Linked DNA regions of Homo sapiens. The protein of the gene in region 7 purifies or fractionates together with the protein of the main gene of each other region. This does not show direct contact. Each region holds a gene or a part of one and is shown on either strand. Other genes may lie near its edges.

Evidence for each region.
Region 1: the proteins of PYHIN1 (region 7) and CTCF purify together in Homo sapiens (affinity purification with mass spectrometry; 2 studies listed by BioGRID and IntAct, with this or other methods). This does not show direct contact.
Region 2: the proteins of PYHIN1 (region 7) and LGALS3 purify together in Homo sapiens (affinity purification with mass spectrometry; 3 studies listed by BioGRID and IntAct, with this or other methods). This does not show direct contact.
Region 3: the proteins of PYHIN1 (region 7) and CBX5 purify together in Homo sapiens (affinity purification with mass spectrometry; 2 studies listed by BioGRID and IntAct, with this or other methods). This does not show direct contact.
Region 4: the proteins of PYHIN1 (region 7) and SUPT16H purify together in Homo sapiens (affinity purification with mass spectrometry; 2 studies listed by BioGRID and IntAct, with this or other methods). This does not show direct contact.
Region 5: the proteins of PYHIN1 (region 7) and PLCD1 purify together in Homo sapiens (affinity purification with mass spectrometry; 3 studies listed by BioGRID and IntAct, with this or other methods). This does not show direct contact.
Region 6: the proteins of PYHIN1 (region 7) and DCAF1 purify together in Homo sapiens (affinity purification with mass spectrometry; 5 studies listed by BioGRID and IntAct, with this or other methods). This does not show direct contact.

Annotation. Positions count from the first base shown.
Region 1 is NC_000016.10:67,607,526-67,611,025, reverse strand, and holds part of CTCF (transcriptional repressor CTCF), read right to left. Parts: intron 203-3,500; 5' UTR 194-202; coding exon 1-193.
Region 2 is NC_000014.9:55,139,252-55,142,587, reverse strand, and holds part of LGALS3 (galectin-3), read right to left. Parts: intron 2,314-3,336; coding exon 2,225-2,313; intron 5-2,224; coding exon 1-4. UniProt on the Homo sapiens protein: Galactose-specific lectin which binds IgE. May mediate with the alpha-3, beta-1 integrin the stimulation by CSPG4 of endothelial cells migration.
Region 3 is NC_000012.12:54,270,123-54,273,622, forward strand, and holds part of CBX5 (chromobox protein homolog 5), read right to left. Parts: intron 1-3,500. UniProt on the Homo sapiens protein: Component of heterochromatin that recognizes and binds histone H3 tails methylated at 'Lys-9' (H3K9me), leading to epigenetic repression. In contrast, it is excluded from chromatin when 'Tyr-41' of histone H3 is phosphorylated (H3Y41ph).
Region 4 is NC_000014.9:21,353,020-21,356,519, reverse strand, and holds part of SUPT16H (FACT complex subunit SPT16), read left to right. Parts: intron 1-1,979; coding exon 1,980-2,109; intron 2,110-2,687; coding exon 2,688-2,817; intron 2,818-2,954; coding exon 2,955-3,032; intron 3,033-3,500. UniProt on the Homo sapiens protein: Component of the FACT complex, a general chromatin factor that acts to reorganize nucleosomes. The FACT complex is involved in multiple processes that require DNA as a template such as mRNA elongation, DNA replication and DNA repair.
Region 5 is NC_000003.12:38,026,843-38,031,112, reverse strand, and holds the start of PLCD1 (1-phosphatidylinositol 4,5-bisphosphate phosphodiesterase delta-1), read left to right. Parts: upstream 1-1,470; 5' UTR 1,471-1,573; coding exon 1,574-1,607; intron 1,608-4,270. UniProt on the Homo sapiens protein: The production of the second messenger molecules diacylglycerol (DAG) and inositol 1,4,5-trisphosphate (IP3) is mediated by activated phosphatidylinositol-specific phospholipase C enzymes. Essential for trophoblast and placental development.
Region 6 is NC_000003.12:51,402,516-51,406,015, forward strand, and holds part of DCAF1 (DDB1- and CUL4-associated factor 1), read right to left. Parts: intron 881-3,500; coding exon 628-880; intron 1-627. UniProt on the Homo sapiens protein: Acts both as a substrate recognition component of E3 ubiquitin-protein ligase complexes and as an atypical serine/threonine-protein kinase, playing key roles in various processes such as cell cycle, telomerase regulation and histone modification.
Region 7 is NC_000001.11:158,934,552-158,938,051, reverse strand, and holds part of PYHIN1 (pyrin and HIN domain-containing protein 1 isoform alpha 1), read right to left. Parts: intron 1,162-3,500; 5' UTR 1,142-1,161; coding exon 877-1,141; intron 1-876. UniProt on the Homo sapiens protein: Major mediator of the tumor suppressor activity of IFN in breast cancer cells. Promotes ubiquitination and subsequent degradation of MDM2, which leads to p53/TP53 stabilization.

The DNA.
Region 1 (3,500 bases), on a different chromosome or scaffold from region 7:
GTTCCATCATCACCATCTGTACACTGCTGTTGACATCCTGGACCACCTCACCCCCATCCGTCTGGTTCTGGGGTAAGTGGCAGGCATCTTCTTCCTGGCCCCCTTCCCGGCGTCTCTGGTAAGTCTTTCTCTCCTTTCCTTTAATAAAAGTTTCGGACTCCTCCACAATGGCTTCGACTGCATCACCTTCCATTTCCCCTGCCTTTATTAAGGGAGAACACAGATTGTTATTTAAAGCAAAGCATGTCTAAATAAAAATATACATTTTAAAACAAAAAGACCCTTTGGTGAATGAATTAGGCATCAATGGTTGTTAATATTAAAAAAGACACAACAGACATGTGCCTCTTGATGAAAGAAACAACCACTACTGGCCAGGTGCAGTGGCTCACGCCTGTAATCCCAGCACTTTGGGAGGCTGAGGCGGGCGGATCACGAGGTCAGGAGATCGAGAACATCCTGGCTAACACGGTGAAACCCCGTCTCTACTAAAAATACAAAAAAAATTAGCCAGGCATGGTGGCGGGCGCCTGTAGTCCCAGCTACTCGGGAGGCTGAGGCAGAAGAATAGCTTGAATCCAGGAGGCGGAGCTTGCAGTGAGCCGAGATTGCACCACTGCGCTCCAGCGTGGGGGACAGAGCAAGACTCCATCTCAAAAAAAAAAAAAAAAAAAAGAAAAAGAAAAAACCACTACCTATAATGCAATTTTGTCAAACAAACTCCAAAACTCTGAAACCAATCAAGTCTCTAGATCCAACCCAATTAACAGGAAATTGGTGACTCAGGATGTTAAATTATACTACAGGGATTAAATCAGTGAAATCCATACCGAGGGAAACACTGCAAGATTATACTCAGGTTCTTCTGCAAATAGATAACAAGAAGAATACAAGGGAAGACTGATTGGAGGGAGAACCAGTAGATCAGTAGTTCTCAGCCTGGGGTGACTTTGCCTCTAGGAACATTTGGCTAACACATTTTTGGTTGTCACTACTGGGCTGGGATGTGCTACTGTTATCTCGTGGGTGAAAGCTAGAGATGCTATTAAACATCCTCCAAGACACAGGTCAGTCCTCCACCACAAAGAATTATCAGGCCAGGCCGGGCACGGTGGCTCACGCCTGTAATCCCAGCACTTTGGGAGGCTGAGGCGGGCAGATTACCGGAGGTCAGGAGATCGAGACCATCCTGGCTAACACGGTGAAACCCCGTCTCTACTAAAAAATACAAAAAAATTAGCCGGGCGTGGTGGTGGGCGCCTGTAGTCCCAGCTCTTGGGAGGCTGAGGCAGGAGAATGGCGTGAACCTGGGAGGCGGAGCTTGCAGTGAGCCAAGATCGCGCCACTGCACTCCAGCCTGGGCGACAGAGCGAGATTCCATCTCAAAAAAAAAAAAAAAAAGAATTATCAGGCCCAAGATGTCAAGAGCACTGAGGCTGAGAAACTCTGATACAGATAAAAGAGTCTTAAAGAGACAGTAATCAATCACAATGCATGAATCTTCTTTGGATCCTGATTCAAACCAATAAATGGTGAAAAAGATGTGACACAAGACAATTAGAAATTTCAACTCTGGATATCTGATGATATTAAAGAATTACTAACAAAACTAATTTAAATCTTACACATGTAGTGGGGAAGACACTGGTAAAGGACATATAATTTCAGTGGGAATAAGTTCAAGAGATCTATTATACAACATGAATATTACAGTTAATAATAACGTATACCTGAAAATAACTGAGAGCAGATTTTTAAGTGTTCTCATCACAAAAAATGACAAGGATGTGAGATGATGCATATATGAATTAGCTTAATTTTCTGCAATTATGGGGTCTTGCCACATTTCCAGACTGGCCTTGAACTCCTGGGCTGAAGCAATCCTCCCACCTAAGCCTCCCAAAGTGCTGGGATTATACATGTGACTGAGCCACTGTGCCCGGGTCTGCCAATGTTTTGTAAAAAGCTTTATTAAGGTAGCTTTATTAAGCACGTGGTGGCTCACGCCTATAATCCCAGCACTTTGGGAGGCTGAGGTGTGTGGATCACCTGAGGTCGGGAGTACGAGACCACCCTGAACAACATGGAGAAACCCCGTCCTAAGTAAAAATACAAAATTAGCCAGGTGTGATGGTGCATGCCTGTATGTAATCCTGGCTACTTGGGAGGCTGAGGCAGGAGAATCGTTTGACCCGGGAGGTGGAGGTTGCGGTGAGCCAAGATTGCGCCATTGTACTGTGCAGCCTGGGCAACAAGAACGAAACTCCGTCTCAAAAAAGAAAAAAAAAAACACTAAATACACCTCCAAAATTTCCTTGTATTTTGTTTTTGGTGATAATATTTATCATGAGATCCATCCTCAACATAATTCAAAGTGCATAATGCTATACGATTAATACAGGAACTATGTTGTGTAGCAGATCTCTAGAACTTACTCATCTTGCATAACTGAAACTTTATACCCACTCAACAGCAATTCCCCATTTTCCCCACCCTGTCAAGGGTTTTTGACCTTGTTTTTTGAAGCCAAACTCAGAACTTAGATCCAGACTGCAATGGCCGTGTTTGTAGACACTGCACAAAACTGCCCATGTCATACCATCAACTTGACATTCACCTCTCTCCTGACAATGAGATCAGGAATTCCCTGAGAATAAGAACCACATCTAACAAGTCGTTTTTTTTTTTTTAATTTTTTTTTTGAGACGGAGTCTCGCTCTGTTGCCCAGGCTAGGGTGCAGTGGCACGATCTCCGCTCACTGCAAGCTCCGCCTCCCAGGTTCACGCCATTCTCCTGCCTCAGCCTCCCGAGTAGCTGGGACTACAGGCGCCCACCACCATGCCCGGCTAATTTTTTGTATTTTTAGTAGAGACGGGGTTTCACCATGTTAGCCAGGATGGTCTCGATTTCCTGACCTCGTGATCCGCCTGCCTCGGCCTCCCAAAGTGCTGGGATTACAGGTGTGAGCCACTGCGCCCAACCGGTTTTTACTTTTTTTTTTTTTTTGAGTCGGAGTCTCGCACTGTCGCCCAGGCTGGAGTGCAATGGCGTGATCTTGGCTCACTGCAACCTCTGCCTCCCAGGTTTAAGTGATTCTCCTGCTTCAGCCTCCGGAGTAGTTGGGATTACAGGTGCCCACCACCACACCTGGCTAATTTTCTGTATTTTTAGCAGATACGGGGTTTCACTATGTTGGCCAGGCTGGTCTTGAACTTCTGACCTCGTGATCTGTCCGCCTCGGCCTCCCAAAGTGCTGGGACTACAGGCGTGAGCCACCACGCCCAGCCACGGTTTTTACTCTTTAGCACTGTGCCCAGGATGGTAAGTACTCAATAAATGCCAACCAAATTGAATATATAATAGAAAGCAGAAAACAAATCAGCCAATTCATAGTTTTTGGCTCTTATATCTTGTGAATGGGCCGGGCACGGTAGCTCACGCCTGTAATCCCAGCACTTTGGGAGGCCAAGGCTGGTGGATCAGTTGAGGCCAGGAGTTC
Region 2 (3,336 bases), on a different chromosome or scaffold from region 7:
AATTCTGTTTTAAACCAAAGACCAGTTATTAAAATGATTAAAGCTGTACATTTGCACTGTGTAAAGAACATGTAATTTTCTAAAAAGCAAATAATTTCATAATACAGTACCTAGGAAATTTTTCTGAATGGAAAGCAAATAAATCAGAATGGGTTCAAACTGGAAAATATCCTATGCCTGATATTCTATGTACTATCACAAAATCTAAAGGTAAGCAAGACAATAGATGTTGAATTTTTTGCCTCATTGTCTTCGATCATATTTCCATTCATCTGTAATGCCCCTACAGACTCATGAAAACCCTTCGAGGTTTTCTTACAGAGGTTTAGAGCCACTCTGAGGACACTTTATCCCTTACTATAGATAATGGTTATCTCTTTCCTGCTCTTCCAGTTTGCTTTCAATACCTGGTAAAGGCAAGCCAGCTATATAGTTAACAGCCATCAAATACCTGGCTTCCTCATAATTAACCAGAAGCCCTAGTTCCTCTAAAACAGCAAGAATGAGATAAGGTAGTTAATATTCAGTATCTTGTTGCTAAGTTGTAAAGTCATGATAGTAAATGTGGTAAACATTCTATGATGTGAGCCAGAACCAATGAAATTGCTAGTTTAGCTTTTTGACCCTGTTCCTTCTCCCTGGAGGTTAATGCAAACACAAGTCCTCTTTGACTAACCCCATCCCTGAGTTTCTCAAAGTGCGCTCTATAGAGCGGTAACACCAGAGTCATCAGTAGGTATTCGTATTTTAATCTGCACTCTAGACCAACTAACAAAGATTGTCTGTGTATTTTGATTCACCCAGTAACAGTCACATTCAACCACAAATGATCTTCCAGTGATTAAATTTGTAAGGAAAAAACAGCATAGAATTTGTATTTGACTAAATATACAATGTTGTCATCTCTGTCACCTTAAGCACTTTTTTTTTCTACACAGTTCGTCATATAGAATTTGCAGGACTAAGCAACAGTTTTTTTTAAGTTTACTACCATTAACCATTTCAACCAGAATTAGTTTTGATCTGCCAGTCTCAATCTACATCTCTAGCATTATTAGAACTAAACTTTCCAGTGAAATGACTCTAACAAGACAAGGATACCAAACTGGGTATTCAGTGTGCGTTAGGGGTTGTGGGAGGAGGAGAGCAGATATTTAATAAATCATGAGTGCTGTGTGCACAGGATAAGGTGTGCTGGGTTCTATGTGATGTTGGGAGGAAATACGGATAAGGACATAGGTAGAGGATGTATATATTTTGTAATTTGCTATGAGACGGGCATTATTGTACGGGGAAGTTCTGTGCTTACAGAAATTGTCTAGGCTGTGTGGAAAGATGGGTTGGCTTAGGATAGTGACTACCATTGCAGAAGCAGAGGAGGCTGGCTGAGGTGGAGGGAATGAGCATTTGAATGTGAAATTATCAGATCAGAAGTGAAGTCCATCTCTTGATTGCAGGATGTGGAGCAAGGTGACAGACACTGAGACTGTTTATGGATTCTTGCATAAACCTGTGTACATGGCTTGAATTTGTGCCATTTAGGTACTGTCCATAAGACCTAGAGACAGTTCCACTAACCTTAGGGGCAGGCATCTCAGATGGTTTCAGGACATGGCCAGCTTCCTTGTATGATATGTAAGTACTACATAACCAGTGGTGACAACCAGGGCCAAGCAGCCCAGGACAGCCATAATTAGCATGTATTTTCCTAAATAAAGCCTCACCCCATCCTAGCCCACCTCATCAATCAAACTACTTCCAATAGTAAAGGTTGATTTATAATGATGAAGTTTTTAACTTGTAGAATCTCTTCAAACCCATAAGCAAATAGTATCTGCTCAAAAGACGGGTTCCCAGGCCTGCCACTGATCATCTGTAGAACCTGAACCTCAGTTTTGTCTATAAAAAGGGGAGAGCAATATTCCTTATCCTGCCTTCAGCCATGAAGATTAGCTGACATAATACATATCAAAGTATAGAATAAGGTGTGTTACCGTTTACTATGAGTGCCATGATGCTTAGCAAAATTATATGGGAATATGTATGGATTTATGGGATAATCCTATATGATGGTATAGCCAAGATTCTAAATATGTAGTTTTTAAAATTTTACTAAAATTCAAAATAGCACTGTAAGACAGGGCAAGAAGAAAAAAAGTAGGCCATTCTTTATTCAAAAACCAATCTACAAATAGAGTAGACTTGTTAATTTTGCTCTCCTTACCTGTTTGCATTGGGCTTCACCGTGCCCAGAATTGTTATCAGCATGCGAGGCACCACTCCCCCAGGCAAAGGCAGGTTATAAGGCACAATCTGGGAATTAACAAGTACATATGTGTCAATAAGGAGTCATGTTTCTTTGGGGAAAAAACGATGTTGCTAAAGTTCCATCACTATTAATATGTGTGAAAAACACATAACTCTAGTATATGCCATCTGTCCAGACTCTCAGGCCACTTTGCCCAGGGGCCAAAGAGATAAGGCTCCCTAGATGTACAAATAATTGAAAAGAAAGCCATCAGTAAATCTCATTACTACGGCCATCCCAATTTGTACTCATTCATGTTGACTATTTTTGGAAAGGCTTAAGCTAGATCTTGTGATCAACATTAACATTTTTGTATCACTCTTAAGGCCCTGTCATGGTACATGCTTTACTGTGGATATTCTGCTTCCTGGGGGCAAGCAGCATATCACATTCTGGGCTTGTGGGTTCTCATATGCTTTGTACTCACATGGCTCCAGCAGAGTGCTTTGCATATGGCAGATACTCAATATTTATGGAATGAACACTGTTAACACTGTGAGGTTCATTCCACAAATGTTTATTGACCAACTACATTCAAGGTACTGTGAATATCCCCAAAGCTCTATTTATTTATGGCCTCTTTTCTTTCCCTTTTTAAGACTTCCCCCTGGGTTTAACTATCACCCAAACCTTTTTATTTTTTGAGACAAGGTCTCAAAAATCCGAGTCTCAGTTGTTGAGGATGGAGTGCAGTGGTGTGATCATAGCTCACTGCAGCCTCAACCTCTTGGACTCAAGTGATCCTCCTGCCTCAGCCTCCCACAGTGGTGGGATTACAGGCATGAGCCACCACACCCAGCCTATCCAAATATTTTCTTTCTAGTCCTGGTGTGTACTAGTCCTGTACTTCCTCCCACCTAGATTTGCTGCTAGTGCCTCAAATTCAACAAGTGTGAACTAGAATGGTCTTCCCTACCCCCTCCCCCATCAGTTCCCCTTCATGAGTTCCCAGTTTGGGCTAAAGCTTTGCTGATGGCTCTAGTTGCTCAGCCTTGAAAAGTCAGAGTCCTCTATGACTCCTAAGACAT
Region 3 (3,500 bases), on a different chromosome or scaffold from region 7:
AATTGCTGCTTTTATCATTACTATTTTCTTGTTTATTTTGGATTTAATTTGTTCTTTTTCTAGGTTCACAGGGCCAAACCTGTCAGTGACCTGCTTTTGTTGTTAAAGTACTTAATGCTATAAATTTCCCTTTAAGCACTTCCTTAACTGCATCCCACAATTTTGTTTTGTTTTTGAGATAGGGTCTCTGCCACCCAGGCTCAAGTGCAGTGGCAGGATCATAGCTCACTGCAGCCTTGATCTCCCAGGCTCCAGTAAGCATCCCACCTCAGCCTCCCAACTAGCTGGGACTACTGGCAAACCACCACTCCTGGATACTTTTTAATTTTTTCTAGAGACTAGGTCTCACTATGTTGCCCAGGCTGGTCTTGAACTCCTGAGCTCAAGTGATCCTCTCGCCTCAGCTTCTCAAAGCGTTGAGTTTACAGGAATCAGTCACAGCACCTAGCCTCATTCTAAAAGTTTTGATATATCATCTTTTCATTTTCATTCAGTTCCAAGTATTAGTTTTCTTTGTAATTTCCTCTTTGTAGGTGGGTTACTTAGAAGTGTGTTGTGTAATTTCAAAATATTTAGGGATTTTTCTTGATGTCTTTGTTACTGATTTTTTATTTAATTGCACTATGATCAGGAAATAAACATACCTTGGCCAAGCACAGTGGCTCATGCCTGTAATCCCAGCACTTTGGGAAGCTGAGATGAGAGGATCACTTGAGCCCAGGGGTCTGACACCAATCCGGGCAACATAACGAGACCCTGTCTCTACAAAAAAAGAAAAAAGGGTGGGTGGCTGAGCATGGTGGCACATGCCAGTGGTCCCAGCTTTTCAGAAGGCTGAGGCAGGAGGATCACTTGAGCCCAGGAGTTTCAGGCTGCAGTGAGTTGATTGTGTCACTGCACTCCAGCTTGGGTGACAGAACAAGACCCCGTTTAAATTTTTTTAAAAAACCTTTATGATTGAATCCTTTTGAATTTGAGACTTATTGACCCAGAAGGTAAACTGTCTGTGTAAAAGTTCCATGTGCACCTGAAAAGCACATGTATTCTGCTGTTGCTTGTACTATTCTATAAATGTCAATTATATCAGGTTGTTGGTAGTGTTGTTCAAGTCTTCCGTTTCCTTACTGATTTCATCTACCTGTTTTATCAATTACTGAGAGGCACTGAAATTTCCAAATATAATTGCAGATGTCTGTTATTTCCTTTTTCTTTTCTTTTTTTGAGACGGAGTCTTGCTCTGTCACCCAGGCTGGAGTGCAGTGGCGCGATCTCCGCTCACTGCAACCTCCACCTCCCAGGTTCAAGCGATTCTCCTGCCTCAGCCTCCCAAGTAGCTGGGATTACAGGCGCACGCCACCATGCCCAGATAATTTTTGTATTTTTAGTAGACAGGGTTTCACCATGTTGGCCAGGCTGATCTGGAACTCCTGACCTCAGGTAATCCACCCACCTCAGCCTCCCAAAGTGCTGGGATTACAGGCGTGAGCCACTGCACCTGGCTTGTTACTTCATTTCTGTTTTCCTTTGTGTATGTTGAAGCTTTATTATTAGCTTTTAGGACATTTAGGATTGTTATGTCCGCTTGATGAATTTATTCATTTATTATATAACCTGGTGTTTGTTATTTGCCCTATCTCATAAGTCTATTATGGAAAAACAATAGGAAAATACTTTGGAAAATATATAGGAAACAGAAGGAAAAATGTTTAATAATCAAGGAAGTTAAAAAAATTTTAATGAATTTTCTTTATTATCTGTAAGTCTTATCCATGCTTGTCTCTACTTACATAAATGAGGTTTGCTATGTTTTATCAGATCTTAGGCATAATTTATTGTTGTGAAACACTGAACAAATTAGCAGTATATTACCCTCCACAACTCCCTGTGAGGTGAGTTGCACAGATTTAGGGATGAGAAACGAGGCACAGAGAGTTCAAGGATTTGTCTTAAAAACAAAACTTAAGATTTCCCAGCCTGTTAGTTGACCTCTTTAGTACAGGGCATTTTATTCCGACATAATTATATTTTATTCTGACATAATTATGCCCTCTGGCTCAGATATGAACTTGCTTTATTCTAAGAAACATAGATTACTATCAGAAAAATACTTGAATCCAATTTGGTTTCTCCTCTCCACAGAAGAAATAAATAATGAGTGTGTTATAAAACCTGATCTTGAAACGGTCCTTTCAAGTACACCATCTCAAGCTCATGGCTTTATCTAGTGTCCTTCCTAGCAATGAAACAGGATGGAACAGGCATTCAGTGAGTCTGAAGAGTAAGACTGCAAGTGAAAATTTTTACTCTATGACCTAGTTTCAGGTAGAAAAAAATCTGTCAGTGTTTAATTTTGATGAACTACTACTACTGGAAAGAAAATTCAGGCTACACAGTCTATAGTCTCACTAAAAATGTAGTGAAAATGTTCCAGCTAGTCTATTACATCCCTTGTAGAAAATCTTTTCTTCAGAAAGGTTTAAGCACACAGCTAACAAATACAGGTTAGTTATCCTGTGTTAATACCCCAAGGAGTTGACAGTCAGCCAACAGCTCAGTCTTCCATCCTTCAAGTCCTAGGCAAGAACAGGACTACCCTCACCCAAAATGTTGTAATTTGTAATGTTTTGATTCACATTTTAAATTATTGACTTAAAAAACAAACTCCAAGATGACTTAGGAATCACTTCATAAAGTCTTAGGTCTAGAAGGCTTGTTAACGATCACTTATCCAACTCCTTCCCTATAAGATAAAGAAACTAAGGACTAAAGAGGGCAAATGGCTCACCCATGGTTACACCATTAGATAATGGCAGAGGCAGGACAAGAACCCAGGTTTCTGAGCCTTTTTTCACTTGCCTCTGTTTCTTTAAAAATAACATTTTCTTTTCTGAATTAGCTCAAATCTATTTGGGTAGAGGTTAGGGAACCAATGTGTAGTGGTCTGAATGATGGCCCTCCCCCAAAGAGATTCTTATCTTAATCCCTTGAACCTGTAAATGTTATTTTATATAGCAAAAGATGTGATTAAAAGATGAATCCGGCCGGGCGCGGTGACTTATGCCTGTAATCCCAGCACTTTGGGAGGCTGAGGCAGGCGGATCACCTGATGTCAAGGGTTCTAGACCAGCCTGGCAAACTGGTGAAATCCTGTCTCTATCAAAAATACATAAATTAGCCGGGCACGGTGGCAGGCACCTGTAATCCCAGCTACTCAGGAGGCTGAGGCAGGAGAATAGCTTGAACCTGGGAGGCGGAGGTTGCAGTGAGCCAAAATCACACCAATGCACTCCAGACTGGGTGACAAAGCGAGACTCTGTCTCAAAATAAACATGAATCTACATTTTTTTTTCAGGGACCTGCCACTTTAGGAATAAAATATATTTTAAATCTGCTCTCTCAGGTTGAATTAAAAGATAGGATTGGAGAAATTTATCCTGGTTCATCCAAGTGGTTTCTTAATTGCAATCATATGTATCCTTATAATACACAGGTAGAGGGAG
Region 4 (3,500 bases), on a different chromosome or scaffold from region 7:
GCTTGTTCTCAAATGTCTATTAGTGTGGATTTAGAACAGCCTTTAAAAGTTTCACTCAAAAACTTCCAAGTAATTGGCCTTACTACGAGGCAATACTCTTCAGAGTCTGCCTGATGCCCTGTGGATTGTGAGATCTCTCTGCTGAAGCTGGTGGAAAGGTGGTGGAAATAAATCCACTGGAACACGATTTATTTCTAGTTCTGTGTGAGATTGGGAGTTGTCTGTCCTACTGCTTTCCAGTGCTTCTTTATGCAGTTCCAGTTTTCTCATGAATGTGTAGATCATCCCTCCACCAAAGACTTGAGGGGACCCCTCTGCAGATCTCTGGAGCTTTCTCTCTGGGAAACTCTTCCTTCCTGTACTCTTCTCCACAAATTCTAGCTGTCCCAGCCTTCCCAAATCCTACTTTGTCTCAGTTCCTGGAGACCATCAGGTTGTGGTGGATTCTCCCTCCCTGCATAGCAGGCTAGGAATTGCCTCTAGACAGAAAACTGGGGCAAATGTTCAATTAACCCTTGTTGTTTCCTTCTTTCAGGGATTATGGTCTTGTGCTGCTTTTTATCCAATGTCTGAAAACTGTTGTTTCATATTTTGTTTTGTAGTTGTTTAAGGTGGGAAAGTAAATCTAGTCATTGTTACTCCATCATGGCTGGAAGCAGAAGTTGCCGTGTATATTGTCTAAAGTGGATTTATGCCAGTGGTTCTCAGGCAGATTTTATGGTTGTTTGTTTTTATCCTTACTATTGTCATTTCTTTGATTTTTTTCTTCTTACCCACTCTTAACTGATTCAGCCCTCCTCAACAGAAGTGAGAAAGAGAAAGTCATTTGAGCATTGTCTAAATACAGGGCACTTTAGGTACTGGGAAAAAAAATTTGTTCCTACCTTCATACAGATTTTGCATCAAATAAACAACACATAGGAAAGCAGTGAAAGGTTGAAGAAGAAAGGCTAGGGCCATTGAAAATTGTCCCTGTTTCTTTCTTTTTTTTTTTTTTTTTTTTTTTATTATTATTATATATTTTTTTGAGACAGAGTCTCACTCTGTTGCCCAGGCTGGAGTGCAGTGGCACGATCTCGGCTCACTGCAACCTCCACCTCCCAGGTTCAAGCGATTCTCCTGCTTCAGCCTCCCAAGTAGCTGGGACTACAGGCGCGTGCTACCATGCCTGGCTAATTTTTTGTATTTTTAGTAGGACGGGGTTTCACCGTGTTAGCCAAGATGGTCTCGATCTCCTGACCTCGTGATCCGCCTGCCTTGGCCTCCCAAAGTGCTGGGATTACAGGCGTGAGCCACCGCACCCGGCTGAAAATTGTCCCTATTTCTTAACTACAATAGTGAAAAACAGAATCGCAGAAGTGGTTATGAGTTAAGACTACTTAGAAATAAGAATGGAATCAGTGACAGAGAGGGAAAAGCATGGGTGAATAGGAGAGAAGACTAAGTGAAGAAGAGGGAAATTGGTGTTTAAGGAAGAAAATGGGAGAGGATGAGCTCAGACTCAGGTGAAGGAGAAAGCTTGTTTCAGTTGGAATGTTGGTCTGTTGTGAGGGCTAGTGCTCTAGGAGATCAAATAGCAGCCATTGGGACATGATCTGGTGGCATAGTGCAAAGAATATCTGCTCCCAGGCAGGGCGCGGTGGCTCACACCTGTAATCCCAGCACTTTGGGAGGCTGAGGCAGGTTATTCACCTGAAGTCAGGAGTTCTAGACCAGCCTGACCAACATGGCAAAACCCTGTCTCTACTAAAAATATAAAAATTAGCCAGGCATGGTGGCATGCGCCTGTAATCCCAGATACTCGGGAGGCTGAGGCAGGAGAATCACTTGAACCTAGGAGGCAGAGGTTGCAGTGAGCGAAGATTGTGCCACTGCACTCCAGCCTGGGCAACAGAGCAAGACTCTGTCTCAAAAAAAGAAGAAAGAATATATGGAAAATACAGAAGATTGATTTGACTTTGTCATGTCATTTCTCTTAGTTCCTGCGACCTGAAATACACAGAAGGAGTACAGTCCCTCAACTGGACTAAAATCATGAAGACCATTGTTGATGACCCTGAGGGCTTCTTCGAACAAGGTGGCTGGTCTTTCCTGGAGCCTGAGGGTGAGGTGCGTGAGTGTGGGGTTTCTTTTCTGGTACACAGTGTTGCCCGCTATCATTTGGTCAGTTAGAATGGAATATGAGTAGTACATAAGGGACTAGGCCATCTGGGAGAAGCTCTAAACACCACTTGATATTATTGTTTCTTCAAATTGATAAATTGATTGGGCAGTGGTAACTAACTCCTGACAAGATTTCTTGGAAATTACAAAAACTTTTCCTCAATGAGTTTCTTAGCATTTAGGGAAAAATCCTTCAGGGCATTTTGCAAAAATTATTTTTTAAAAAATGATCCACTTAACGTTTGTGTGATACGTAAATACAGAAAGTCTTTCTGTTGTTAATTTCCCTGGGTGAGGAAGGCTAACGTGAATTTTTCAGAAATGTAATAATACATAATAATAGTAAAATAATAATTGCACCTGACCACTAATTTTAAACAAGTCATTTTATCTCTTGATCCCTCAGATTATTTTGCTCTTGTTTTCTTCATGTAAATACTGGTATACTATGTGGGCTGAATTAATTCATTAAGTTAATAAGGTAAATGTCAAAAAAAAATCAGTATTATGCTCTAACTCACCAGGGGAGTGATGCTGAAGAAGGGGATTCAGAGTCTGAAATTGAAGATGAGACTTTTAATCCTTCAGAAGATGACTATGAAGAGGAAGAGGAGGACAGTGATGAAGATTATTCATCAGAAGCAGAAGAGTCAGGTTAGTCTTACAGAGCAAAGTTCGTCCTGGCTTCCTAATCTAATGTCATTTCTGAAAACTACTTTTTTTAGACTAAGAACTCTGTCGTTCCATTCTGTTCCCGCATGATGACTAACGCTTAATTAATTTTCTTCCAGACTATTCTAAGGAGTCATTGGGTAGTGAAGAAGAGAGTGGAAAGGATTGGGATGAACTGGAGGAAGAAGCCCGAAAAGGTTTTTAAAAATGTGTTGTTTTTTATTCATTTGTCTACGCACAAATTTCTAACACATTTCAATATTTTGAGGTGTTAGTATTGATGGCGTAATGAAAGTAACAAAAGAACACTATAAAAGTGCTTTGGAGCCACAGATACAACTTCATTGACTGAAGGAGAAAATGAGGTGTGGAATGTGTCCATACTCTCCAGTGGGCAGTGCTCTGCCAAACTGGATGCTGTTTTCATCTGCGCAAGCCCCCATCTTTCCTATAGCCATGATAGCCACATATTCATGTAATACTCAAGAATTAGCCTACTCAGTTTCCAAACCTAAATCCTATAATACTTTAATTTTCTAGGCTTCTTCCAGGTTAGGCATGTCTTTATAATGCTAATCTAGTTACTCTGAAGCCAAACCCCAAACAAACGTTTTAAAGCTTAAAAGGAAATAAATATTAACTGCTGTGTTCCAAGCATTGGGAAT
Region 5 (4,270 bases), on a different chromosome or scaffold from region 7:
GGAAGAGGAGGGGGGCTTGAGGAGGCCTGATTTGCTGAGTACAGGGGCTTGCAGGCTCCAGGAGTATCAGAGGTGCAAGTGGTAGGCTCCAAGGCCTGAGGAGGCCTCCAGAGGGCAGAGAAGGGGACCCTTCTTCCCCACTCATCCCCTGTATGGAGGTCCAGAGTGATGCCTGCCAGTATGAATTTGCTCATCCCTCAGCAAACATGGAGTGTGGCCCTGGGCAGAAGGGAAACCAAGGAAGGAACTGACAGGCCTGCCCAGGGCAGGGGTGTTCGCACTGCAGGACAGGATTGGAGCTGAGTGCCAGGTAAGGGGTGAAGCCCCGTCTGTGGAGAGGGGGCATGCAGAGCAGGGGGCTCTCCAAAGCCCAGAAGTCCTGATCCACTTTTAACCCCCAGAACCAGAAGACTGTCCTTCAGCTGTTTCACATCCCTTATTCAAGGCCACCTAGGGCCCAGAAGAGGAGGGATTGGGGTGAGCCCAGCCCCCTCCCCGCAGAGCTGGTCCAACTAGCTTTGCCTGACTCTCACATTGGCCTTATCAGCCCAGGAGGCCTGGGTGGCTTCCTGGGAGGCCCTCTGGGGGCTCTCTGACACCAAGAGCCCAGTTTTCCCAAGGGACTCTCCAAAGGGGTGGTGGGCAACAGGATCTAGGGACCCTCCCAGGGTCTGTGGTGGGAGGGGTCTCTGGGCAACCTATAAAGGGGGTTTTCTGGGTCCCAAGAGTTAGGGGGTGGGTCTGCATAGGGACCTTGCCCAGACAGCCCCTTGGGAGGCCACCTGAAGAAGGGACCCTGGGGATCCTCCCCCTCGGCTGCATGGATCGCTGGGGTTTTGGGATATGAGTGGCTCAAAAGTGAAATCCGTGCACCTGCTTGCTTCCCCCTCCCACACCCCCAACACTCCACCAAAGGCACTCTTGGGGTTAGAAACCTCCCAGCGAGAGGGAAGGGGACCCTCCTCCCGACAAGGTCCAGGTATTGCTCTCTGAAGACCTTCTAATCGTGTCCGTGCACCCATTTCGCAGAAGGGAATGCGAACGCTGGGAGCTGCGGCTGGAAGCCTGGACGCCGCGTCTCCCTAGCGCAGCAGCCCGGCTGGGCGTCGGACCTTACACGATCCCTTCCCCGGGATGACGCCGGATTCTTTCCAGCATCACCCCGACCCCAGCGAGGCGCCCACAACAGGGCGTGGGGCCCGGCCGCCCGCGGTAATGACAGGGCCCGCGGCCCGTGGGTGGCGGCGGCGGAGGAAGCTGGAGGAATCTGGCTATTTCTGGTCGGGGCGCGCCCGCTGGCCCGGGCCAGGGTTGGCCAGTCCTCCGGGCCCCCAGCTCTGCCCTCCCTCTCGCGTCCCCAGAAGGGGGCGGGGAGAGACGAGGGTTGGCGGGCTCAGGGGGCGGGGGCGCAGGGCAGCGGGGGCGGGGCGGTGTCCCGGGACCACCCCCGGCCTCCTCCCACCGCGGTCCATTCAGGTCCCTGCACCGCACTCCGCTCGGACCCCAGGCCGCCGGTGCTGTCGCTACTCAAGTGAGTCCCGCGGTGCCCCTCCCGCCGCGCCGCCCGTCGGGCATGGACTCGGGCCGGGACTTCCTGACCCTGCACGGTGAGTGCCTGGCCCGCGCGAGCGGGAGACCCTGCAGGGGTGGACCCCTGGAAAGCTGTTCCGGGCCCTGGACAGGGAGCCCCCAGCTCCTTCGGCCGCCTCCACACCACCCCGGGCCCGCCTCTCTGCCCCTTCTCCGGACTGGGAAAATCTCAGCCCGCGGCTCCCTGGGTGGGACTGCCGGGCACGACCCTGGGCGTTTCCAGGCTTGTCCGAGATCTAGCCCGGGGGGTGGGTGGGCGGGCGGTACGGGTCTAAAGACTTCCCTCCGCCTCGCGGACCCCCTTGTCCTGGTCATGAAAGTCTGGGCTCCACGATCCCGCTCGCACGGAGGGGCGGCGAAGGAAGGAAACAGCATCCAAGAACGACCAAAATTCTCCTTGCCCCATCCGGGCCGCCCCAGAGGCTCCCCAAAGCCTGGGCGTGCCTGGACCGCGTCAGGCCGCGCGGGTGTGGCGGAGCAGGGGCTAAGCGGGTGGGGAGAGGAGGTGTGCAAGGTTAACCGTGGTCGGGCCGTGCAGCCTTAACTGCCCAGCGCAGAATAGTCAGCGATGCTCAGGCTGAAAGAAGCAGCACGATCCCCTCATCTGCGACCCTCCTCGGGGGACAGGGCCAGGTCTCAGCCGGAGCTGCCTGCTCCATCCTTTGTCCAGCGGAGCTTTGTTTCCTCCAATATGAGCCAGCTCTTTGCCCTTTCGCTGTCCCTCCAGCAGCGAGGGGAGCCTGGGCTCCCGAAGGCAGATCTGGAGGCCTTCTGGGAGGCGGGAGGTTGGGGAGGGTAACTTTGGGCGCCTCTTTGCTCCAGGACAGGCACTCACTCACTCTTGGTGGGGGCTTGCCCTCCTGCCCTCCCAGGTCACTTGCCATCTCAGCAAACCCTGCTCCTTTCATACCAATCACTGCTTTACTGTATATCCCTCTCTTTTTTAGTACCCTTGGGGTTGGAGGCTTTAGTGGCCACCACCCATCCATCTAAACTGTTCATGGACATAATAGATGGGAAAGAGAAGGGCAGAGTCCTCTAGCCTTCCACTAGAGTCCCCCTGGAATTTAGAGGGACTTAGAGATGTTCCCATCAGCCAGCCTCCAGTCTATCTCGTGTTCTGCAGTTGGCACAGACCTGGTCCTCCTGGCCCAGAGAGACCTTGCTCTGTGCCCAGAGCTGTTGCTTTTACACCAATAGCCTAGGCTCCTTAAAGCCACCTTGTCTAGATGAGTCATGGAGTCCCTGCCCCTTCCAGTGCTCCCTCTTCTTTCTTCAGGCCAGAGGTGTCTTTCGTGCGCCTGCCAGACTAGCAAGAAGGGAGGCTGGGCAGCTGAGAGGACACAGTGGACATCTCTGCTTTCTCTCTGACACAGCGTCATTCCTTGGCTCCTGTTGGAACAGGCTTCATCCTCAGTGTCTGTGCCTTTGTCCAGTTTCTCTCCTGAGGCAGCCTTGATATCTTTTCCATGGAGGAAGACACATGGAGGCTCAGTCAGGACCTCCCAGTCCTGTGGCATAGGCTTGGCTGCCCTGGCCCACCCCATTTGAGACCAGCCTCCCAAATGCCTAACTCAGTCCAGCCTTTCCTGAAGGGTTGACATGAACACTGTGACCCCAAGCTGTTTTCCCTGAAGGCCCTGCCACTTCTAGCTCATCACCCAAAATTACCTCAACTGCCTTCTGTCCACACTGCAAACCAGATGGGGAAATAAGAACCTGTCAAGGAGAATTGTTGGTGGGAGGGGGTGATCACTGTGCCCTGTGCTGTTCCAGGTTGTCTACACTTGCATTGGAGAGTCTGCATCCGTTTCACAGTGTGGGTGCCCCAGCACTGGATGTGCTGCAGGACCACACTCTCTGGCCTAGGGCTCCACACTCTCTGGAAGGAGCCCAGAGGGACTCCTTCTGTTGGCCTGGGGAGCTATGCGGCTCACCTAGATGTGACATGTCCCTTCTGTCCTCACCCCAGATGCATGCAGAAGTAATGTAGTTTACTGGCATAGATTCTGAAAGCAAAGTACCTGAGTTCAAGTCTTGGCTTTCTCATCTCAGATGAATCCCTTGACTTCCCTGTGTGTCAGTTTCCTCATCTGTAAAATGGGGGATAATACCATCTACCTCATAGGGTTGCTACGAAGATTGAATGAGATAATATCTACACAGCAGTTAGAACAGTGCCTGGTACCCAGTGAGTACTATGTTCCTGCAGGAGGCCCCCTCCCCAAATTTCTATGCCCTATGAGTTGCCATCTGTAGTTCTTTGGGAGATGATGGGGGCATCATAAGGTAGTTCCTAGTCATGGAAAATAGGGCCAGAACTAGATTCAAGAGCGAGCCAGCCAGCTCTTTCTAGTGCCTCTGAAGCCCTCAGACTGATGCGACAGCATCCATCCTCCTTCCTTCACCTTACTTCTTCCACTCTTTATTCTGGCTATGCCTGGACTGGCTTCTCTAGCAGGTCCCCCGATGTGCCCCAAAGGACATTACCTCCCAGGGCCCTCCCCTCACTGAACACCCCCCACATACACACTAACTTTTCCTACACCCAATCCCTTTTGCCCCCACCCCTGCAAGAGGTGCCGTTTGTAAAAACAGAAAATAGAGGGGCCTCATCTTGGCCCCAGTAGACCTGGGCTCCAGTCCTAGCTTTGGTTCTACTTACTGTGGGTCTGAGAAT
Region 6 (3,500 bases), on a different chromosome or scaffold from region 7:
ACAACAGCAGAGTTGAAGAGCTGCAACAAAGGCCATATACCCTACAAAGCATTTTTTTTTTTTTTTTTTTTTTTTTGAGATGGAGTCTCACTCTATTATCCCAGCCTGGAGTGCAGTGGCACGATCTCGGCTCACTGCAACCTCCGCCTCCCAGGTTCAAGCGATTCTCCTGCCTCAGCCTCCCAAGTAGCTGGGATTATAGGCATGTGCCACCACGCCCAGCTAATTTTGTATTTTTAGTAGAGACAGGATTTCATCATGTTGCCCAGGCTGGTCTCGAACTCCTGACCTCAGGTGATCCACCCGCCTCAGCCTCCAAAGTGCTGGGATTACAGGCGTGAGCCACCGTGCCCGGCTGCATAAAATATTTACTGTCTGATCTTACAGAAAAAGTCTGCCAATCTCTACTTGAAAGATAAGAAATGACAGCCATTTGGTTGGGTTCCACAGTCTGACAGGAGAGGAGGGCAGAGATGCAAAGGTGCTTTGCCTCAAGAGACCAGAGTAGTGAATCAAATTATGGGGCACAGAACCGTGGTATGGCTTGCCCTCTAAGTTGTATGGGCACAAAAGAAGGGATCTTGCCCTGGGTGCCAAGGCTCAGCCTGAACTCTGCCCTATACTTACTGTCCCCCAGGATCAGTTCCACCTCCTCATCTGCATCAGAGTCTTCATCCTCCCCGTCCTCTCCCTCCTCTAGAAGGTTTGCTAGCTCCTCATCAGAGGGAGAGAAGTCATTGTCCCCATCTTCCCCTGCGTTCTCATTATTGTCGTCCTCCTCCAACTCCGCCTCCAGCAACTGGTCAGTGTCAAGCTCATCTAAATCATCGGTGTCATCATCATCTTCATCATCATCTTCTTCCTCCTGTTCTTCCTCTTCCTGGTAAGAAAGCGTAATGTTCATTAGTACAAACACAGAGGCCTGACCCATGGGGGCCACATGGCGGGTCGACCAAAGAGACAGGGTAGGAAACTGTCAGTAGAGGGTAGTAGTGATCTAGACGAGCACAGACTTCATGAGCCAGCCAGACTTGTCAGTGATGGCTGAGATAGGCACACATGTCCCTCAAGACGGTCAAAGCACCCCTCAGACAAGGATTAATGGTCACATAGCCCTTATGCAAGGAAACAGACAACTCGCTTCACAGAAGTCTCTGCCTTCAATATTCTAGGAGCCCAAGGGGACTCTTCTTTCTCACCTGCATCAACCAAAGCAAGTGAAATCAGCTGAGACACTAGAAAAAATCCTTTTACCTGGAATCTAAAATGCAATGCTTTAACAAAATGGAAGAACACAACTGCTCATTATCTCCTCAGCCCTTCAAGCTCTTGCCCTTGATCTTCTAACCAAGAATGTGGATAAGCTCCTAACTATGCTATCACAAACATTTGATCAGAACAACATTGCAACAAAAGACTTAAAATATAGAACACTAACAGAAACCCATATTTCCTGTCATAAGCCAAAAAGAAAAAAAAGTATGCTGGAGAAACTATCTTTCTTTCCATTCTTACAAGAACTTGCAAAGGCAAGAAAATTACCAGAACATCAATGAAATACTTTGTTCTAGGGACTCTGGGCTTTGTAAATGGTACATTCTGGCATCTGCCACAGATTTCAGGTTTGCATTAGAATCCCAACTGTTTCCCTTCAAAAGGGAGAGGACACAAAGATACCTCTTTGCTTTGACAGGGATAAGAGGCATTTCCAAGTAAACGTAGCTGCCACTCAAGACACTTATCTTTCTGCTCAAACATCAACTGTCAGCCTTGCCAATAGCAAAGGATTCTAATTGTTACAATAATAAAATGTAAAATTCATTTAATACATCAACCTAATGAAATTCAAGATGGAATAAGCCCAACGTAAGCACAAAAAAATTTTTTTTGTTCTTATTATTTTAAAACTTATACTCAGTGGTTACATCTTTTTTCATTTTGAAGGTGTTATTGCCTGCCAAGCACTTAAAAAACAAGCATTTTGTGCTTACCCAGCCACTAGAAACCAGTGTGTAACATAAGCTAGGATCATTCAGCAGGGTAGCTCCGCTTTGTGGACTTCTGGTAATTTTGGAACCACCATTAGTGACTTTTTGATAAACTGTGTAATTCAGTAATTTAGACTCTTCAAAATTTCTGCCAGTTATGTTGGAAAAACTGAGCCCCTTTTAAATACCTAGTACTCCTAATACTTGTGCAAGTGCGTGTATGGTCTGTACCAGATTCGGTGGGAGCATTTGTGTATGTGCCAACACACACACACATAGAAGGCCTGAGACTATTCCAAAGCCTTGGCCACACATCCCCTCCAGAGGTGAGTGGATAAATAACTACTAAGCATTCACCCGCCTCAAAGGAACTATGAGTGTCTGGAGTCAACAATGATAAACTGAAACACAGACAGGCTCTCAGCCCCTACAAGCACATAAGCTCATACAAATAACTGGGAAAGGAGAGCGGGGTCAAAATTCAGGGGATATCATCCAAGTGCTTACCAGATTACAACTTTTGCCTCTTTTTCCAGGCGTATTTTCATAGACTTGACCAAAATTAGCTAATCCACTAACAAAGTGCCACAGTTAAAAATAAGTAAGGAAGAAAGTACCCAGGGCCCTGTGTCTTAAGGCTTCGTGGACAGAACACTTATATTTAAAATTTAAGATAGCACAACTAAAGGTCCACGGTTGAGTGTGTACATGAAAGGTTAAACTGCTCAAATAGGCATGGGCTAGCCAGAAAATTCATGAAGACAATTCTCTTTCATTTTGAAGAACATTGAGGCTTAGCTGATCTAGAAGAACTGAACAAAAAGCTTCCATATCAAGAGCAATCCTGGAATATTTTCAAGCAGGGTCTAAGCTTTGAACTAGATACCATTCCAAACTCTTCCAGCAGCAGACAAACCCAAATTTTACTTAATTTTATAGCAGAAGAAACAGATGTATATATATTCATCCCAGAAGGCCACAAACACATATGTGACCATGAGAGAGAGGAGGGGAAATTAGTAGGAAAGAGATCTACCTGAATCTCAAGTTGAGCACCTCACTTTGTCGTCTCTACTTTGTATTTAATGCCCAATGCTGATTTCTCACCATGCATTTTGTCACACATGGACATAGCCATAAACTCACTTTCCAAATTTTAAATCTGAAACTGGGATCATGAAGCAGAGGCTCACAAGACTCATCCAAAATGCTGTGGCAGAACCCAAAAGAGATTCTAGGAAGCAATTTTAGGTGCATTCTCTGCTGGTCAAGTAACTGGTGGCATGAACCCCTCTCCTTCAGATCTAAAGAATAAAGCTTCCAATAATGAGTGGTCCAAAAAGTAAAAACTAAAAATAATTATTTAATGAAAAAGCAAAGCTTAGCTGGGCACAACGGCACACACCTGTAGTCCCAGCTACTCAGGAAGCTGAGGCAGGAGGATCACTTGAACCCAGGAATTCAAGGCTACATTGAACTACGATTGTGCCACTGCACTCCAGCCTGGGCAAC
Region 7 (3,500 bases):
CTCCAGATAATCTATTTAAATTACAGAAACTAGTGAAAGGAGATGTTAAATAGGTTTGTGAGGTGAGATATGGTGAGTTTTGACTTTTTTTCTTTTTTTTTTTTTTTGAGACGGAGTCTCGCTCTGTCGCCCAGGCGGGAGTGCAGTGGCGCGATCTCGGCTCACTGCCAGCTCCGCCTCTCGGGTTCACGCCATTCTCCTGCCTCAGCCTCCGAGTAGCTGGGACTACAGGTGCCTGCCACCACGCCTGGCTAATTTTTTGTATTTTTTAGTAGAGACGGGTTTCACCTTGTTAGCCAGGATGGTCTCGATCTCCTGACCTCGTGATCCACCCACCTCAGCCTCCCAAAGTGCTGGGATTACAGACGTGAGCAACAGCGCCAGGCTGAGTTTGTTTTAATTATTTTAACTCAATAACATGACAAGAGGGGAGGTCTTCACACTTCCGGGAGCAATGCTTACATTTAAGTATTGTTATCTTTTGTATTATAAAGGATGATGGTGTGTTGAATATTCTCAATAGAATGAACACATTAATTGACTAAATGTACATATCTCAGATATAAACAACAATTTTTATAATTTTATTTTGTCATTATGTAATCTTTCGAATGTACTAGAAGTCTCAGTCTCTCTTCAACTCCCTCTCCTTTTTGTTCTTTTACTGCACCTCAACTCCGATATACGTCAATCCACTTTAGTAATGGAATGCCATAAGTTGTCAACTTGTTGGCATCTGAAGTACCAACATTGCCATGGCCAGTGAGTCACAAATTGGGAAAAGGATGTATCAGCTACGACCAAGGTGGCGTTCTAATCAAGGTTGGGAAGGGTGGGGATCATTGCAGGGAGTGGGTGTTCCCTCTTCCCAATTACCTTTTAACTTTTCTCTTTTAAGAGTTTCAGCAAGGTCTCCCAGTGTTGGTATTTCTTTGAAGAATTCTATTAGTTTGCCCAAACCGGCATCACCTGGGAACTTTTCCTCCATCAAGTCAGCAATCTGAATTTTGTCATACTCTTCTTTCATTTTTGGATTAAGTTTTAAATCGTTACTCAGTAAGGACTTAACAATTCTAAAATGATAATCATTGATGACCTCTAATCCTTTCAGTAGAACAATTTTCTTGTAGTTATTTGCCATCTCTAAAGATATAAGTGAGCCTGCAAGAGAAAAATGGTATATAGTGTTACACATGTATACAGAGAATTTAAAAGAAGATGTATGCCTATGTGAATAAGTGGCCCATAAGAAAGAGTTGTTCATTGTGCCAGTTTTCAAAGGGAATTCTTCCAGTTTTTCTCCATTCAGTATGATATTGGCTGTGGGTTTGTCATAGATAGCTCTTATTATTTTGAGATACGTCCCATCAATACCTAATTTATTGAGAGTTTTTAGCATGAAGGGTTGTTGAATTTTGTCAAAGGCCTTTTCTGCATCTATTGAGATAATAATTTGGTTTTTGTCTTTGGTTCTGTTTATATGCTGGATTACGTTTATTGATTTTTGTATGTTGAACCAGCCTTGCATCCCAGGGATGAAGCCCACTTGATCATGGTGGATAAGCTTTTTGATGTGTTGCTGGATTTGGTTTGCCAGTATTCTATTGAGCATCAATGTTCATCAAGGATATTGGTCTAAAATTCTCTTTTTTTTGTTGTGTCTCTGCCAAGCTTTGGTATCAGGATGATGAAGCTGGAAACCATCATTCTCAGCAAACTATCGCAAGGACAAAAAACCAAACACCGCATGTTCTTACTCATAGGTGGGAATTGAACAATGAGAACACATGGACACAGGACGGGGAACATCGCACACTGGGGACTGTTGTGGGGTGGGGGGAGGGGGGAGGGATAGCATTAGGTGATATACCTAATGCTAAATGATGAGTTAATGGGTGCAGCACACCAACATGGCACATGTATACATATGTAACAAACCTGCACGTTATGCACATGTACCCTAAAACTTAAAGTATAATAATAATAATAATAAAAGAAAGAGTTGTCCATGAATATGTGTGATAAAGAAGGACTTAATGACCAAATGAGTTACTGTAGAAATTGAGTGAAGAACTTTTGCTTTAGGAATGTCCAAGTAATTCATCCCATTGAATGAGGATAGTTGAATTGGGTCCAGGTGTTAGAGGGAGGTCTGTGAACAAGCAATTGTCTCAGTGTTTAGAGTATGGGCTGTGGAGTGTCAAAGTGCTTGGTTGCTCTTCCCATCCTTTACTGGGGCTGGAGCCTATCCCCCAAAACCTGCCTGTTGTTTCTTAAATCTTCCCACACCCACCACTATGACTGGAGTGGCCTAGGTGTAAATGGGCTGCAGCCTCCCACCTTATATGAATAACTTTCTGCCGCAGCACTACAGTTTCATGCTGGGGCGCCGACCCTATTCTCCTTAACTCTTCTCTTGTCAGCTCTCATCAGTATCCTCTTCCTTGGTGTTGGACCCTGCCATATTTGTCCTCTGTGCCCATAAAACTATCACTTTCCTGAACATCTACATTTTCTCTATTGCAGGAACACAGGATTTATTGGCTGGAATATTTCAATAGTTGCTTGATTTTTCTTTTAGGCTTGATTTGTCTAATTCATTTTCATTTCACAGATCCACATTTCTCTCTATAAACCACATTTTTATCCCACTGAAATCTTTCAATATTTGCCCATTTTCTTTTCAATACATTCCTTGCTTCTTGTATTGTTTCAGAAGACTTTGAATAATCTGCATTCTTTTTTTTTTTTTTTTTAACCTCTGGCACTTGTGTGTTCCTTATATCTTACATTTCAGAAGTATAAAACATTTTCATGCTTCATGACTTTGCTAATTCTCTTCTCATTGCCTGGAAAGCCATTCCCACATTCCTCTATCTGACTGCCTCTCCTACAACATTTTAGACTCAACTGAGAGTTTGTCTTCTAGAAATTTTCAGAGTGCCCTTATGGACAGAGTGTTACTCCTCTGGACCTCTTTAGCACCAGTGCACTTTAGCACATGATGACACTCAAAGCATGCTATGGATTCCTGTTTCCTTTTTAAATTAACATAGCGCTTTGGGAGGCTGAGGGAGGCAGTTCATGTGAGGTCAAGGGTTCAAGACCAGCCTGGCCAACATGGTGAAACCCCGTCTCTACTAAAAATACAAAAGTTAGCCAGGCATGGTGGTGGGTGCCTGTAATCCATAATCCAAGCTACTCAGGAGGCTGAGGCAACAGAATTGCTTGAACCCGGGAGGTGCAGTCTGCAGTGAGCAGATATCATGCCACTGCACTCCAGCCTGAGTGACAAGAGCAAAACTCCACCTCGATAAAAATAAATACAAAAACAAATATTTTAATTATAGAAAACATGTATTTGTGTACCTCTTGTGTAATTTAGATATTTAAATTCCTGGGGCTGTTAATTGCTTTCTTCTTGAGAGAACATGAGTGTCCTCAGATTGATAAGCATAGAATGAAGGAAAAAATATATACAAAGACATATAGTGAAACTG